Linked DNA regions of Homo sapiens. The protein of the gene in region 1 interacts with the protein of each later gene in a pairwise test. Each region holds a gene or a part of one and is shown on either strand. Other genes may lie near its edges.

Evidence for each region. Proteins that work in one complex are often made in the same cells at the same time.
Region 2: the proteins of KRT86 (region 1) and JOSD1 interact in a two-hybrid assay, tested with the Homo sapiens proteins (one large-scale study listed by BioGRID and IntAct).
Region 3: the proteins of KRT86 (region 1) and MGAT5B interact in a two-hybrid assay, tested with the Homo sapiens proteins (one large-scale study listed by BioGRID).
Region 4: the proteins of KRT86 (region 1) and ODF1 interact in a two-hybrid assay, tested with the Homo sapiens proteins (one large-scale study listed by BioGRID and IntAct).

What each region holds. Positions count from the first base shown.
Region 1 is NC_000012.12:52,302,145-52,305,644, forward strand, and holds part of KRT86 (keratin, type II cuticular Hb6), read left to right. Parts: coding exon 1-141; intron 142-955; coding exon 956-1,164; intron 1,165-1,966; coding exon 1,967-2,027; intron 2,028-2,787; coding exon 2,788-2,883; intron 2,884-3,095; coding exon 3,096-3,260; intron 3,261-3,500.
Region 2 is NC_000022.11:38,698,144-38,702,218, reverse strand, and holds the start of JOSD1 (josephin-1), read left to right. Parts: upstream 1-1,275; 5' UTR 1,276-1,419; exon of another isoform or gene 1,420-1,600; 5' UTR 1,601-2,231; coding exon 2,232-2,416; intron 2,417-4,075.
Region 3 is NC_000017.11:76,874,904-76,878,403, forward strand, and holds part of MGAT5B (alpha-1,6-mannosylglycoprotein 6-beta-N-acetylglucosaminyltransferase B), read left to right. Parts: intron 1-3,500. UniProt on the Homo sapiens protein: Glycosyltransferase that acts on alpha-linked mannose of N-glycans and O-mannosyl glycans.
Region 4 is NC_000008.11:102,558,054-102,561,518, forward strand, and holds the end of ODF1 (outer dense fiber protein 1), read left to right. Parts: intron 1-2,398; coding exon 2,399-2,831; 3' UTR 2,832-2,965; downstream 2,966-3,465.

The DNA.
Region 1 (3,500 bases):
TGCATCACCACCGTGTCGGTCAACGAGAGCCTCCTCACGCCCCTCAACCTGGAGATCGACCCCAACGCGCAGTGCGTGAAGCAGGAGGAGAAGGAGCAGATCAAGTCCCTCAACAGCAGGTTCGCGGCCTTCATCGACAAGGTGGGTGTCCTGGATCACACCCTTCCTGAACCCCCACCACCTACACAGCCAGGGCCGGGCACTAAGGATGGAGTCAGAGGCACAAAGACCTCTGCCTGCCTGAGATCCCAGTCTGATGGGCGAGGCACACAGACACACAGACAGACAGACACATGCACAGACACACACACACAGGCACTCAAGATGCAGACTCAGCTGACAGTTCAGATAGAGGGAGCTTGTGAAGGAAAAGTGTGGCCAGGCTGCTCTGGGGCACAAGCTAGACATCAGGGAGTTGGGGGAGGGGGGCATGTGACCACTGCTGCTGAACTCAGAGGGGTTTGGGCAGCCCCAGGGTGAGAGAGTAGGGTGCACTGACTTCCAGATGACACAGGGGAAGGGCTGGGACAGCTGAGCTCCCTTCCAGATGGCCTGTGACACCCTCTTCCTGGCACCATCCCCAGAAACCTCATCTGTGATCTGAACCTGAGTACTCTGCCTGTGTGGGTTGCTGATCACCTAGTTTCATAGTGAGGGACTGAGCCTCTACTTCTGTTCATCTGCTTGGGTGGGGGGTGGGGGGGGGGTCACTCAACTCCCCAGGGAGCAGGCACTGACACCACCCAGCCCTTGCTCCACTCCTGAGTGGGAAATCTAGACACAGATCATGACCAGGAAATCCAGAAATTGTCTGTCTCCCACTGCCCACCTCTACTCAATCTCAGATAAGCTCCAGATTTGGGGGTTCCCATTAAAGCACCTCCCCTGCGAGCCCCCAGAGCTGGCTTTGGGGCACCAGACACCATCTGCCCCACCTTCCCACACCGAATGGCAGGTGCGCTTCCTGGAGCAGCAGAACAAACTGCTGGAGACAAAGCTGCAGTTCTACCAGAACCGCGAGTGTTGCCAGAGCAACCTGGAGCCCCTGTTTGAGGGCTACATCGAGACTCTGCGGCGGGAGGCCGAGTGCGTGGAGGCCGACAGCGGGAGGCTGGCCTCAGAGCTTAACCACGTGCAGGAGGTGCTGGAGGGCTACAAGAAGAAGTGAGTGCGGGCAAGAGGGATGCTGGGCACAGGAATGGGGTTTAGGTTAAATACACTGGATTAGACAATAAGAACTCCCAGGTAGGGTGAGTGGCCATGACCACTAGATTGACCGAGGGTGGCGGGGTCTTTTCCTTTGTGGAATCTTTGCCCAGACACCTGTGTAAGAGGAGGGCTGTGACTCCCATGACCTGTCTCTGTCCCACTTCAGCCTTCTCTCCCTGAACCACATCACCCAGCAGCTCTCCCCTGCGCTGGGTGGGGAGGAAGCCTCTGCAGGGTCCAGGCCTTCTCTCCTGACCCTCAGCCCCTATACTTGTAGCACCTGTCAGATGTGAGCCCAGGGTCTCTCATGAGTGACAGGTCTTGGGCTCTGGGTGTCGCACTGCCTTAGGTTCTAAGTCCTGAGGGTCTGCGGGTCCAGGAGGCCCCATACCTGAGCTGGGATTGATACCAGTGAGGGGAGGCTAGGGCTACAGGCCCTGAGAGTCCACGCTGTCCACTCCCAGGATGGGGCTGGGGGCTGAGTCCTATTTGCCTCCTGGGGGACCTCAGAGCCCCTTTGGGAACAGGACTGGGAGGTCCCAGATGAGCACTCTCCATCCCCAGTTCAAAGTGGATAGAGAATCCCAGACACATCCCACATCCAACTAGAAAGCACTAAGCTAGGCTGCCAGGCCGGGGCTGTGTGGAGGTGTTTCTAGTACTGTCCCCATGGCTGTGATGAAGTGTGATGTGATGGTGGCTCTGCAGAGACCTGCCCTGCCCTGACCTCCCCTCTCTTCCCTCTGCTCTGTCTCAGGTATGAGGAGGAGGTTTCTCTGAGAGCAACAGCTGAGAACGAGTTTGTGGCTCTGAAGAAGGCAAGTGACACAGGATTGAGAAGCACAGATCTGTGGGATCTCAGAATGACAGATTCTTCCTGGGGACACACAGGGGGTCTCAACCTCAGCGTGGGGCACAATGACCTTTCCACAGCAGGCTAGGACTGCCCAGATGCAGGCCTTTGTATTGAGCATCCAGGGCCTTGACAAAGGGCAATGACTTGGGAATATCTACCAGCACCTACCTTGGGCAAGGGGATGGCTGCACTGTCCTCTGTGTGTCCTGCTCTGTTCCAGAGGTTGTGGTCTATTGCTGAGGCCCCTGGAGCCATAGCAGATACAATGTCTCTGCTGAGAGACAGTGCAGTCTGTCTAGCATTTTGGGGAGTCTGACCTTGAGGCAGAGACACAATCCCAGGTTCTAAGGGGGGATGGAGAAGAACCAGGAGTAGCCCTTGGGCTTTTGGAGCACTGCTGGGGGACAGGAAAGGGTCAGGGTGTGAGAGCTGGGGGGTCAGTCTGGGCAGGCTTCCTGGAGCAGGAGAGGGGAGAAAGGAGAGATAAGAGGGTAAGGAGCAGTGAAAGGCTGGTGAGCCGTGCCCAAGACAAACAGGGTTTGTCCTCAGAATGGCAGAGGATGCCAGGTCACCCCGGGAAGGGCCAGAAGGGAAGGAGAGGGCATGGGAATGAGACACTGGGGACTCCTTTCCCCAGGCTTCATGGAATGGGTGGGAAGAGAGAGGAATCTAGAGGCTGGATCACCAGGGTCCTTGAGCTCCAACACTCCCCACCTTTCCAGGATGTGGACTGCGCCTACCTCCGCAAATCAGACCTGGAGGCCAATGTGGAGGCCCTGATCCAGGAGATCGACTTCCTGAGGCGGCTGTATGAGGAGGTGCGGGCTCAGGGGCCAGGCAGAGACCTGGCAGCCAGCAGAGAGGAGAGATGGGGGTGGGAGTGTTGGACAGGATGTGGGTAGAGGTTGCAGTCCCTGAGGCTGTGTGAGGGGGCAGGGTTGGGGACCAGAGAAAGCCTGAGGAGGTGGAGTCAGGACATGGTGGGTGGGGCTGTGTTCTCAACTAAAGTCACTGCCCTCACCTCCTGCAGGAGATCCGCGTTCTCCAGTCCCACATCTCAGACACCTCCGTGGTTGTCAAGCTGGACAACAGCCGGGACCTGAACATGGACTGCATCATTGCCGAGATCAAGGCACAGTACGATGACATTGTCACCCGTAGCCGGGCTGAGGCCGAGTCCTGGTACCGCAGCAAGGTGAGTGGCACAGGACACCTGCCTGCTAGACATGGCAGTGGGAGGGATTTGAGATTATCTATTAAATAGGCTTCCTTTTCTGGGGATGCACTAGGGATGAGAAGAGATGGCTGCCACTCTGATGTTGGGGTGGTAGGGCAGGACTGCCATGTGTGGTTGCACAGGCTGAGCACTGCACAACCTGCAAAATCATCTGTCATGCCCTGAATGGGTGGGAGGTCCCACCCTGAACCTCATGAG
Region 2 (4,075 bases), on another chromosome or scaffold:
AAGTTAAACTCCATCTTAAAAAAAAAAAAAAAAAAAAAGGCCGGGCACGGTGGCTCACTTCTGTAATCCCAACACCTTGGGAGGCCAAGGCGGGTGGATCACCTGAGGTCGGGAGTTCGAGACCAGCCTGACCAACATGAAGAAACCCCTCTACTAAACACACAAAATTAGCCGGGCGTGGTGGCGCATGCCTGCAATCCCAGCTACTCGGGAGGCTGAGGCAGGAGAATTGCTTGAACCCGGGAGGCGGACGTTGCGGTGAGCGGAGATCATGCCATTGCACTCCAGTCTGGGCAACAAGAGCGAAACTCCGTCTCCAAAAAACAAAACAAAACAACTAAATTTGAAGTGCAACAGTTTCTTCTCGTTTTTCCAGTTTTACAGAAAACCCAAAAGAAGGGCAGCTAAGGTGGATAATGATGCCTACCACGCACCCTAAGAGTAGGTAAAGGGGAAAAAATGAAATCCACGTGGGACTGCGAGTAGTTTTCGCCTTTTCCCGAAGACGCACACAATGCGCTTAGGTATACCTCGCGCAGAGGTCTCTGCAGAGAGGAAAGCCACCGTGAGAAGAGCGGGGAGCCCCCAGGCAAGAAGGCAGTGGCTTGTGTGTAGTGAACCGAAATGCGACACCAAGGAACTGCAACAGGATTCTCCTTTCCACTTGAAATGTGACTCCCAGCGAGACACCTACCCTTGACGCTCCCTGGACAGTGCGGCACGGTCGGGCCCACTAACCAAGGCAATTTGCGCCCGACCGAATCAGGTGCTTCAAAATCCCCCCTGGTGAGCCGCGCGTTAACCACACATAAAACAGTCAACGCAGAAGGAGCGAGAACGTTCGGCCGAAAAGCCCGGCACAGAGAAGGGAGGGGTGCTGAAAGCCGCGGACTGCAGCCGCTGGCCTGGCTGCCGCCCCGAAACAACGCCCACGCCCGGGAGAAGGGCAGGCTGGCGTCCAGGTAGGACTCCCTCAGGCCGCCCCGCCAGGGGCCGCGCCGAGCGGAGCGGCTGGACCCCAACCCTGCCGGCCGCCGCCGAGGTGCGCAGCCCGCAGCCCCACACCCACGGCCTTTGCAACACCCCAACCGTTGAACTGCGCCCCTACACGCCCGGCGTCTGCGGCTCCCAGGCCGGTGCCGATGACGTCAGACTTACGTCAGGCGTGACGCCACGGCTGGGAGGAGTGAGGACGGCGCGGGAGGGCGTTTCCGGAGCACGCGCCGGGCGGGGGCCGCTGACGTCGGGCTCAGGTGCGCGCGCCCGCCCGCACGGCCCAGTTGGCGGCGCGCACTCCAGGTGGCGGCCGGCTGCGGTGAGGGGACCGCCAGCGGCGAGCAGTCCCGGCGGCCCTGGGGTCTGCGGCCGGGGGCGCGGCGGGAGGGCGTCTGGGCCTGCGCTCACGTGACGGGCGGGGAGGTTTGTGTAGGGGCTGCGAGCCGGGTGGGCGCGGGCCCGGGAGCGCGAGGCTGACTGTCCGGCCCCACCCCTCGCGGGCCAGCCCTTCGCCGCGCGGAACCTTCCCTCGGGCAGGGGCCGGCCCCGCCGCTCACTTCCCGCGCCCGCTCGCCGCTGACCGGAGTTGTCTCCTCCTCCGCAGGGCCGCGGCCAGAGGGCTAGAATCCGCGCCTTCCGAGGGAGCCGCGCCCTGCGGGCCCCACCGTACCCGAGGGGATGGAGGGCTGCCCCCGAGGCCCCCGCGCGGCTCGCGGTCCCACGCCTGCCGGCCCGCGCTAGCTACTCGACTCGTGCGCTAAATTTATCCGTCACCCAGGCCTTGTCTCCCGAGTCATTGGCGTCGTGGTTCAAAAGAAATGGAAGAAAAGGAGCGATGTGACCGATTGTGTTCGGTCCTCCTGCTTTGAGGCCTGGCATTTGCAGAGGGAAACAGCAAGAAAATCGTGGGGATTTTGGAGGGGGGTGGGAGGGAAGGGTGGGGAAACGGAAACAAGGTCTTACATTTTATGTGTTTTTTTAAATTCTGCACTTTGACAGTGGTAGCAAAATAAAAGTAATCCAAAAGTTATTTTTCTATTGAGAAGAGAGAAGAGGTGGGTTTTATTTTTTTCCTTTTGATTCCAATCTTTTCTCCCAGTGACAAAGCATAAATCATGGACACCAGAGAATAAGGTGGACCTCAGGAATCCGGAAAAGACTGAGAAGCTTACATTCTTCCTCTAGAGGGAAGAGTGGGGTGTTTATAGCCATCTCTGGAACCTAAAACAAAAAACATGAGTTGTGTGCCATGGAAAGGAGACAAGGCCAAATCTGAATCATTGGAGCTGCCCCAGGCAGCACCCCCACAAATCTACCATGAGAAACAGCGCAGGGAGCTTTGTGCCCTCCACGCCCTCAATAACGTCTTCCAGGACAGCAATGCCTTCACCCGGGATACGCTGCAAGAGATTTTCCAGAGGTAGGGGACCCTTCTCCTTGGCATCTTGATACTGATATTTCTGGATTTCTGTGGGTGGGGCAGTGTCTCAGCTTCATAAACCTTCAAAGCTGTAGGTATTAGCTAGATTGCGTTAGCAGGTATAAGGGACACAAGACATGAAAAGATAATCACTACCATTTATCAGGCACTTACGGTGGGCTAGGAAAGTACTCATAGCCTCAGCTGTGTTTTCTTGAGTGATCTTCAACAGTCCCGTGGAATACGTGTTAATATGTGATGTTATTTCCATTTTACTGATGAAGACACATTTAGTTCAGTACCTCGCCCAAGATAACAAGACTTGGAGCTGGGGTTGAATTCTTATATCTATGCTGTTGACCACTATGCTATAATGCCTGTAAAGCTCTGCTGCCGAGGAGTTTACAGTCTAGAAGTGGGACTAGATACGTACACGTTCAGTCACCTGTCTTTAAAGGTGGAATGTGGTGGGTACCACAAGCAAGATGTATAAACAATGCTCAGCTTTTCTGTGAGGCCATGTGCTGGCAGTAGTGCTGTTCGTACATTGCTTTGTGAAGCTCTCCCAACAGTCATTTCACTGCCTGTATTATGCTGATAGGCAGAAAGGTCAGGTAATATGTCCAAATAGCTTCTAAATAGCAAAGCTATAATTTGAAGTTGACTCCAGATCTCTTCTTTCTCCTTTATTCTAGATGGCCTTTCTTACCCACTTAGAACAAATGCCACCCCACAGGTTAATAGAGGTTCAGGTTTTGGCCAAGTACGGTGTAATCCCAGCACTTTGGGAGGCCGAGGAGGGCAGATCACCTGAGTTCAGGAGTTTGAGACCAGCCTGTCCAACATGGTGGAACCCCGTGTCTACTAAAAATACAAAAATTAGCCCGGTGTGGTGGTGCACGCCTGTAGTCCCAGCTAGTCGGGAGGCTGAGGCAGGAGAATCGCATAAACTTGGGAAGTGGAGGTTGCAGTGAGCCAAGATTGCACCACTCTGCACTCCAGCCTGGGTGACGGGTCTCGGAAAAACAAAAAAAGAAGTTCAGCTTTTTTCTCTTTGCTTTGATTTTCTAGAATTACTTTATTAAAGGTTTTGAGAGTCAGTTCTGTGGTGTCTTAATGGACACAACAGCATGGCTGCAGTCCATAGCAACTCAGGTGATGATCTTGCCTGATGACCCCGACTAGAAGTAGTTAGGCCCGCGCAGTCCTCGCTGCAGAGAAGCTCAAGCATTCTTCAAGCAGTGCATATTAGCAATTCCAGAAGACCTTTTTCTTACTCTCTTAGCTTGGAAGTGAAATTGTTGCCACATAGGGACCAGAATTACAGCTGGAAGCAACCTATTTGGGGTGATTTGTAAAACACAGGTATGGACCATTTGCCCTGAAAGAGCCAAAGGCCTACTCTTAGGAGAATGTTAATCCCCAGATGCAGACAAAACTATAATGAGAGTAATTATTTTCCAATGCCAGTAGTAACCAGAGTAATGCCTTACCAGAGCTAATATATCATTTGCATCATGGCCATTATCTGGCAGCAAGTAGAATTGACTCTTCAGGACCTGGGGCACTGGGAGATAAAATAATTCGTCTCAGATCATCAGGTCATGTCACTGAAAGGAGGACCCAGTACATGCTTCCTTTTGGCCAGCCATTAGTATT
Region 3 (3,500 bases), on another chromosome or scaffold:
ACAATTGGACTAGAGGTGTGTGTGCATTCGTGTGTACATGTGCATGTGTGTGCATGTGTGTGTGCGTGTACGTGGTCTTAAACTTTTTAATGGGGTATCATATACACAAATGAACAATCCATGCAACTAACAACCCAGAGCAAGGACCAGAACGTGATCAGTCCCCAAGTGTCCCCATGCCACTTCACAGTCATTACTCACCCAAGGATAGTCACGACTTGACTTCTGATCACATAGAAGAGTTCTGCCTGTTTTTTGGACTTTGTGAGCATGGAATCGTTTCAGGAGTTGATATGGTTTGGCTGTATCCCCACCCAAATCTCATCTTGAATCGTAGTTCCCATAATCTCCACCTCTTGTGGGATAGACCCTGTGGGAGGTAATTGATTCATGGGGGTGGTTTACCTTGGTGCTGTTCTTGTGATGGTCAGTGAGTTCCCACAAGATCTGATGGTTTTATAAGGGGCTTTTTCCCTTTTGCTCGGTACTTCCCCTTCCTGCTGCCATGTGAAGAAGGACATGTTTGCTTCCCCTTCCACCATGATTGTAAGTTTCCTGAGGCCTCCCCAGCCATGCTGGACTCTGAGTCAATTCAACCTTTTTCATCTATAAATTACCCAGTCTCAGGTATGTCTTTAGTAGCAACGTTGAGAATGAACTAATAGAGGAGTAGTCTTTTGTGTGTGTCTTTTCTCTCAGTAGTACATGTGTGAGACTCACTATCTTGTATGCGGTTGTAGTCACTTGCACTTTTTTTTTTTTTTTTTTTTTTTTTGCTGTGTAGCCTTCCATTGTGTGAGTACACCACCATATTTTTATCCATCCGACCATTGGTGGGCATTTGGTCGTTTCCAGTTTTGGGCTTTTGCGAACAGTGCTGCTATGAATATTTCAGTGCACGTCTTTTGGTAAACATACGTAGGCATTTCTGTTGGGTATACCTAGGAGTGGAGATTCTACGTGTTGTAACATTAGTTCTCAGACCAAGTTTATCCAAGCCAGTCTTTTCACATTTCCCAGGCCTCAGAAGCTGAGTGCCTGGAATACAGAACTGAAGTCCGGGAGAAGGAGGAGACAGACAAGAAAAGGGCCGCTGAGAACCCAGGAGAGCTGACCCTGATTCACTTTAGATCCCGACTCGCATTGTCCTCCATGATTTCTTTCATACCCTTGGATCAAGCTAATCTGCTTGGGCAGACCCAAGGCAGGGACTCAGGCCGGGAAAGCAGTGTGCAATGTGGGTTTAACATCCTGATCCTGCAAGAGAAGCCCCTCAAACTACATCCCCACGCAGTGCCTGGGGCAGCCCTGCAGAAAACCTAGGAGGTACCAGCATTTCCACTTAGGAGATGCCTGAGGGAAGGATTAGGGCTTCACGGGGAGGTGCTTGGCAAATTGCTTGGCTGAATCAGGCCTGGGGAGGGATCTTGGAAGTCCTGGGCCAAGGTTGGATTGTTGGATAATGCACGTTTTGTTACCCAAAAGAAATCTGCGGAGTCTAGACAACCCCAGAGCAGAATCAGGAGAAGGAAACCCTCTAAGGCCCTGCTATTTAGAAAAAAAAAAAAAAAATTGCATTGGTCAACAAAACAATCTGTGTACAAATGGGAAAAACAATCTCTCCTCCCCTGTCAAACCGGTGACAGAAGTGGGGTCCCACATGGACTGTGGCTGCGAAGGGAGAGGGAGGAGAAGGCTTTTCTCGAAAAGAAGAGGAGGGCGTCATTCAGCCTCTTGTGGACTGTGGTCTATGTGTGGGGCCTCCAAATTCTCCTCTGTGCCTGTTTATACTTCATGATAAACTGCGTACTTTGGGGATGAAATGTGACTGACATCTCATTCTGTATTCTGCACACTCATCTTAAAGATTCAAGAGAGGAGGCTGCATGGGGAATCATGACCCGGAGGAGATCTGACTTCTTTCCCTCTTGCTGCATTTGGGCTGGGCCTGGGCTCTGGGGAGGGCTTTCCGGCATTGCCCCCTCCCAGGCAGCTCTGCCCCACTTCCCACCCCAGGTCCTCCTCCTGTTTCCTGCCCTTCCAGCCCTTCTCGCCTAGGCCTCCTTCCCCATGTGGCTGCAGATAGTGCTGTGAGGCTGTTTCCTGCCCTCTGACTTGTCTTGAAGAAGCAGTGGTAGGAGGCTGGGTGTGGTGGCTCACGCCTGTAATCCCAACACTTTGGGAGGCTGAGGCAGGTGGATCACCTGAGGTCAGGAGTTCGAGACCAGCCTGGCCAGCGTGGTGAAACCCCATCTCTACTAAAAATACAAAAATTAGCAGGGTGTGGTGGCACGTGCTGTCATCTCAGCTCCTCGGGAGGCTGAGGCAGGAGAATTGCTTGAACCAGGGAGGAGGAGGTTGCAGTGAACTGAGATTGCGCCACTGCACTCCAGCCTGGGTGACAGAGCAAGACTCTGTCTCGGCTTAAAAAAAAAAAAAAAAAAAAAAGTAGTGGTAGGAGGCTATCTTTTGGGAGGGGTCTGTAGGCTGAAGGTCCATGGCACAGCTGCATGTGTCTACTGGGCCCTGCCAGACCTCCCAGGCCTCCACCAGGGATTGAACCTGGGGAAGGCTACCTGGCTCTGTGGATGGCTCTGGCTCTGGCTCTGGCCCTTGGTACTAAGGGGCCCTGGGGCTCTTCTCTCAGGCTTGATGGATGGGGGACCGGGGCCCGGAGGTCTGAGGAAGAGCCTGGTGTGGCCTCCCACGGCCTGTCCTTGTCTTCTCTGCTGCCCGGAGCCCAGAGCTCCCGTGGCCTCAGCTGGTTTCTGCGGTGAGCGAGTACAGAGAGATAAATGTGCGCATTTCTCCAGCTGCACGAACACCCAGTCACAGTTCCCTTCTCAGTGCCAGGGAGGTCTCTGCTTTCTGGAGAGATGGGGGCTCATTCAATTTCCAATGGTAAAGGGTGGGGATGGGGACAAGAAAAGGGGGACGAAGGAGGATGAGAGAGACAGAGAGAGACGAAGAGCGTCTGGGGAGGAGACGGGGCCTCGGTGGGTAATAAACACATCCCGTCTGTAAATGAGAGGATCTATTTGTATCTCCCAGCGTCCCAGCTTTCCTTATTTATATGGAAATATGGAGGGAACGTGTGCCTGTTCTGAGTTGTATCACTGGGGCCTCACATTAGATATATTTCAATTTAGCTGATGCCAAGAGTGGTGAAGTGACTCTGGGGAAGCGATGTCAGCTTGCTCTGCTGACAGTCCCGGGGCCAGTGGTGGCTTTTAGGGGAGTGGGTCACTGGGGGAGAGTCGGCCTGACCTGCTTCCCTCCTGGGTACCCACCCCCTGCCTAGTCTTTGGGCATTTCCAGAGCACAAAATGTGCCTGGTACCCCGAGGGCTCATTGGGAAGGGGTAGGGGCTGTCTCCCCAGGTCTCAGGGGTTTCTGGAGTTCCATGCCATCTGCAGAAGATGGGAGCAGCTCCTGAGCCCCTGGCACGGGGGGACTTGGTCCAGTCTGATGGGGTGGGGCTTGAAGAACTACAGAAGGGG
Region 4 (3,465 bases), on another chromosome or scaffold:
TCTCCTACTTCTTGTTAGTGTGGCATAGGGTACCCTGGCACACCCAGGGCAAGAAAGACAATCATGCCCCATGCCACCCCCAGGTTTCATGGGGCCAGAGGTAGAAATGGGGCTGAGGCCGGGCGCGGTGGCTCACGCCTGTAATCCCAGCACTTTGGGAGGCTGAAGTGGGCGGATCACAAGGTCAGGAGATCGAGACCATCCTGGCTAACACGGTGAAACACCTTCTCTACTAAAAATACAAAAAATAATTAGCCGAGCATGGTGGCGGGCACCTGTACTCCCAGCTACTCAGGAGGCTGAGGCAGGAGAATGGCATGAACCTGGGAGGCGGAGCTTGCAGTGAGCAGAGATCGCCTCACTGCACTCCAGCCTGGGCAACAGAGCGAGACCCCGTCTCAAAAAAAAGAAAAAAGAAAAAAAAGAAATGGGACTGAATACAGTCCTCTGGGTGTATTACACAAGTTGTTTCTGTTTGCCTCAGTGTCTTCTGGGACTGAGTTCTGTTTGATCATTTTATAATTAGCCACTAAGAGTCTTGATCTGTAACTTTCAGTACAAGGGTAGTGAGCACTCAAACTGTTATCTAATCATGTTAGGGCTTAAGTGGAAAATACAGATAAAAATCAGTACGTATAGCATGATTTCATAAGAACACATACAAAACTCTCTCTCTACATGTATATAGAACTACACACACACACACACACACAGACACATACTCACACACACACTCACATAAAGTCAAACACCAAAATGCTAAGGGTTATATGAGATTATAGGTATTTTTAAAATAGTCCATATGTTTACTTATCTGTATTTTGAGTCTTCTACAATGAACTTGTATAACTTATGTAACAAAAAGAAGTAACTGCATAAACAAAATTCAACATACAAAAGTGATATAGTGATAATTACATCTGCATCACAGTTATTATTGTAAAGATTAAATGAAATATGCCTTTAACATGCTTAGCACCTTCCACAGCACATTGCAAAAAAAAAAAAAAGAAAAGACAAAACCTTAACATCCTATGTGCCAAGTATTATTGTAAATATTTTCTTGCATTAACTGATTTAAGCCTCACAACAACCCTATGATGTAGGCTATTTTTATTGTCCCAGTTTTACAGATGAGGAAACTGAGGCACCGAGAAGTAAGTTATCCACATGTTAGAGCCAAGCTTTAAACCTCGATACTCCAGTTCCAGAGTCTGTTCTTAGGCACTTTGCTTTACTACCTCTTGACGGATCATAACTGATCAATTAGTGTGAGCTGCTGTTGTTATTTTTATTAAGGATTTACACAATAGAATTAGTGAATAGCAACAAGGTAGGAACCACAGTAGCTCTGCAGTGAGGACAGAGGAGAGCCCTAATATGTAGCATTTTCCAATTTCCATGGTGTAAATATCCTCATCATGACTATGATTGATTTCAAGCTATCAGCGTGCAGTACTAACTGGGGATCGGGAAGAGATGTACACGATCAGCTCTTGCTAGCTGATGTGATCCTGATTATGGACACCACTGAGAGGTTGTTCTGTATCTGATCAACACGGCCCCACCCAGCTGACTGCCTTTCTGCTAGTGCTAGCTGTCCAGAGGCTAGAGTGACTTCCCAGCCTGGAGGAGCCAGGCGCTGGGCAAAAGACTTTCACACAACACCAGCCTGGGCAGAGCCAGGCCAGGGCTCTCCTGCCATCATTGTTTGATTGAGCTTTCAGGCTGTCTCTGTGCAATTGCAAGAGGTAGCACCTGTCCCATGAACCAGTAGGGCTGGGTTCGAAAGCTGACAGCCATCTCTAAAATGCAGATTTTAAGTGGTATCTTAGTTATATCCCATTTTTTAATCTATATAAATATAAAATATAATTTTTATATAATTTAATTATAGTTATATACACAATTTAATTACAGTAATAATAATGAGAGTGGTAATAATTAAGCAGGATTTATAATGTACGAAGCACAGTGCTAAGTAAAATATCATAATCTCATCTAATCCTCCAATAGCCCTATATGATGCAGGCATTATTATTGTTATCATTATTATTATCTCCATTTTGCAGATGAGGAAACTGAGGTACAGAAGGGTTAAGGAACCTACACAAGGATCAATAATAAGAGGAGGAGCTGGTATTTCAATACGAGAGAAGATTTGGAAGGGCAGGCAGCACGCATTCATTGTTAACAGCTGTGTACTTGCGGGGCAGTGTGATTCGCATGGGTGGACTCACACTTTTTACTTCATGCATTTGTGTAAAGTTTATTTTCACAATGGCTAGTATTAACTTTGGCTATTTCAAAAGCTAGAAATCAAAATATTGCTTCTCAAGCTGTGTCTGGATTCTGAGGTCTGAGCTCCCTCCCACCCTATCCCTTTTCTCAATTCCAGACTGAGAAGAACAACAAATAGAATTCTGGCTTCCTCCTGCTGTAGCAGTAACATTTTAGGATCGGTGAATGTATGCGGTTTTGAACCCGATCAAGTCAAAGTTCGAGTGAAGGATGGAAAGGTATGTGTGTCGGCTGAGCGGGAGAACAGGTACGACTGCCTTGGATCGAAAAAGTACAGCTACATGAACATCTGCAAAGAGTTCAGCTTGCCGCCCTGTGTGGATGAGAAGGATGTAACATACTCCTATGGGCTCGGCAGCTGTGTCAAGATCGAGTCTCCTTGCTACCCTTGCACTTCTCCTTGCAGCCCCTGCAGCCCCTGCAGCCCCTGCAACCCCTGCAGCCCCTGCAACCCGTGCAGCCCATATGATCCTTGCAACCCGTGTTATCCCTGTGGAAGCCGATTTTCCTGTAGGAAGATGATTTTGTAAAGTGCGCATAGGAACCCATTACTTAATAGAAGTCAGTTACTCCAGCCAGGCAGCTCTCCCAATGTTTCTCCTCTCCTTCCCATGGCCCCTGTTGTTGAAGTACGTAGGAAACTGAATACATAACTGCAATCTGCTGGTGTTGTGTGAAAGTCTTTTGGTTAAACCCACTGCAGGAGCCCTGCAGAGTTAGTGAACATTGGAATAATTAGTGGATGGCAATAGAAGGACGATATGGTGAGATCCACCCTCCCATTCCCTCCTCCATACTCAACTACCTCCAAACTCCAGGAGAAGACACTCTTCTGGTGGGCATCCCCAGACATTGTTTTCCAGATGATCCAGTGAAATGGCCTAGCCCAGAAACCAAATGGTCAAAGCAGAAACAGATTAGTTAGAGTTGAAGGAAACACTTTTTCAAAGCTACTGCAGTAGGGAGTCTGGAAAAGAGACTCCTCGAGCACAGTGGGATTGTGGTTTTACTGGACAATGATCAGGATACAAAAACTACGGGGTGGTAGGTGGGACGAGGGGCATGTTTGCTGGCCAAGGCGGGGTGGCCATACAGCTTGTCATTTTTCAACATTCTTGTGGTTTGGGGGATTGGCCAGCTCTGGTTAGTATATGGATGCCAAAC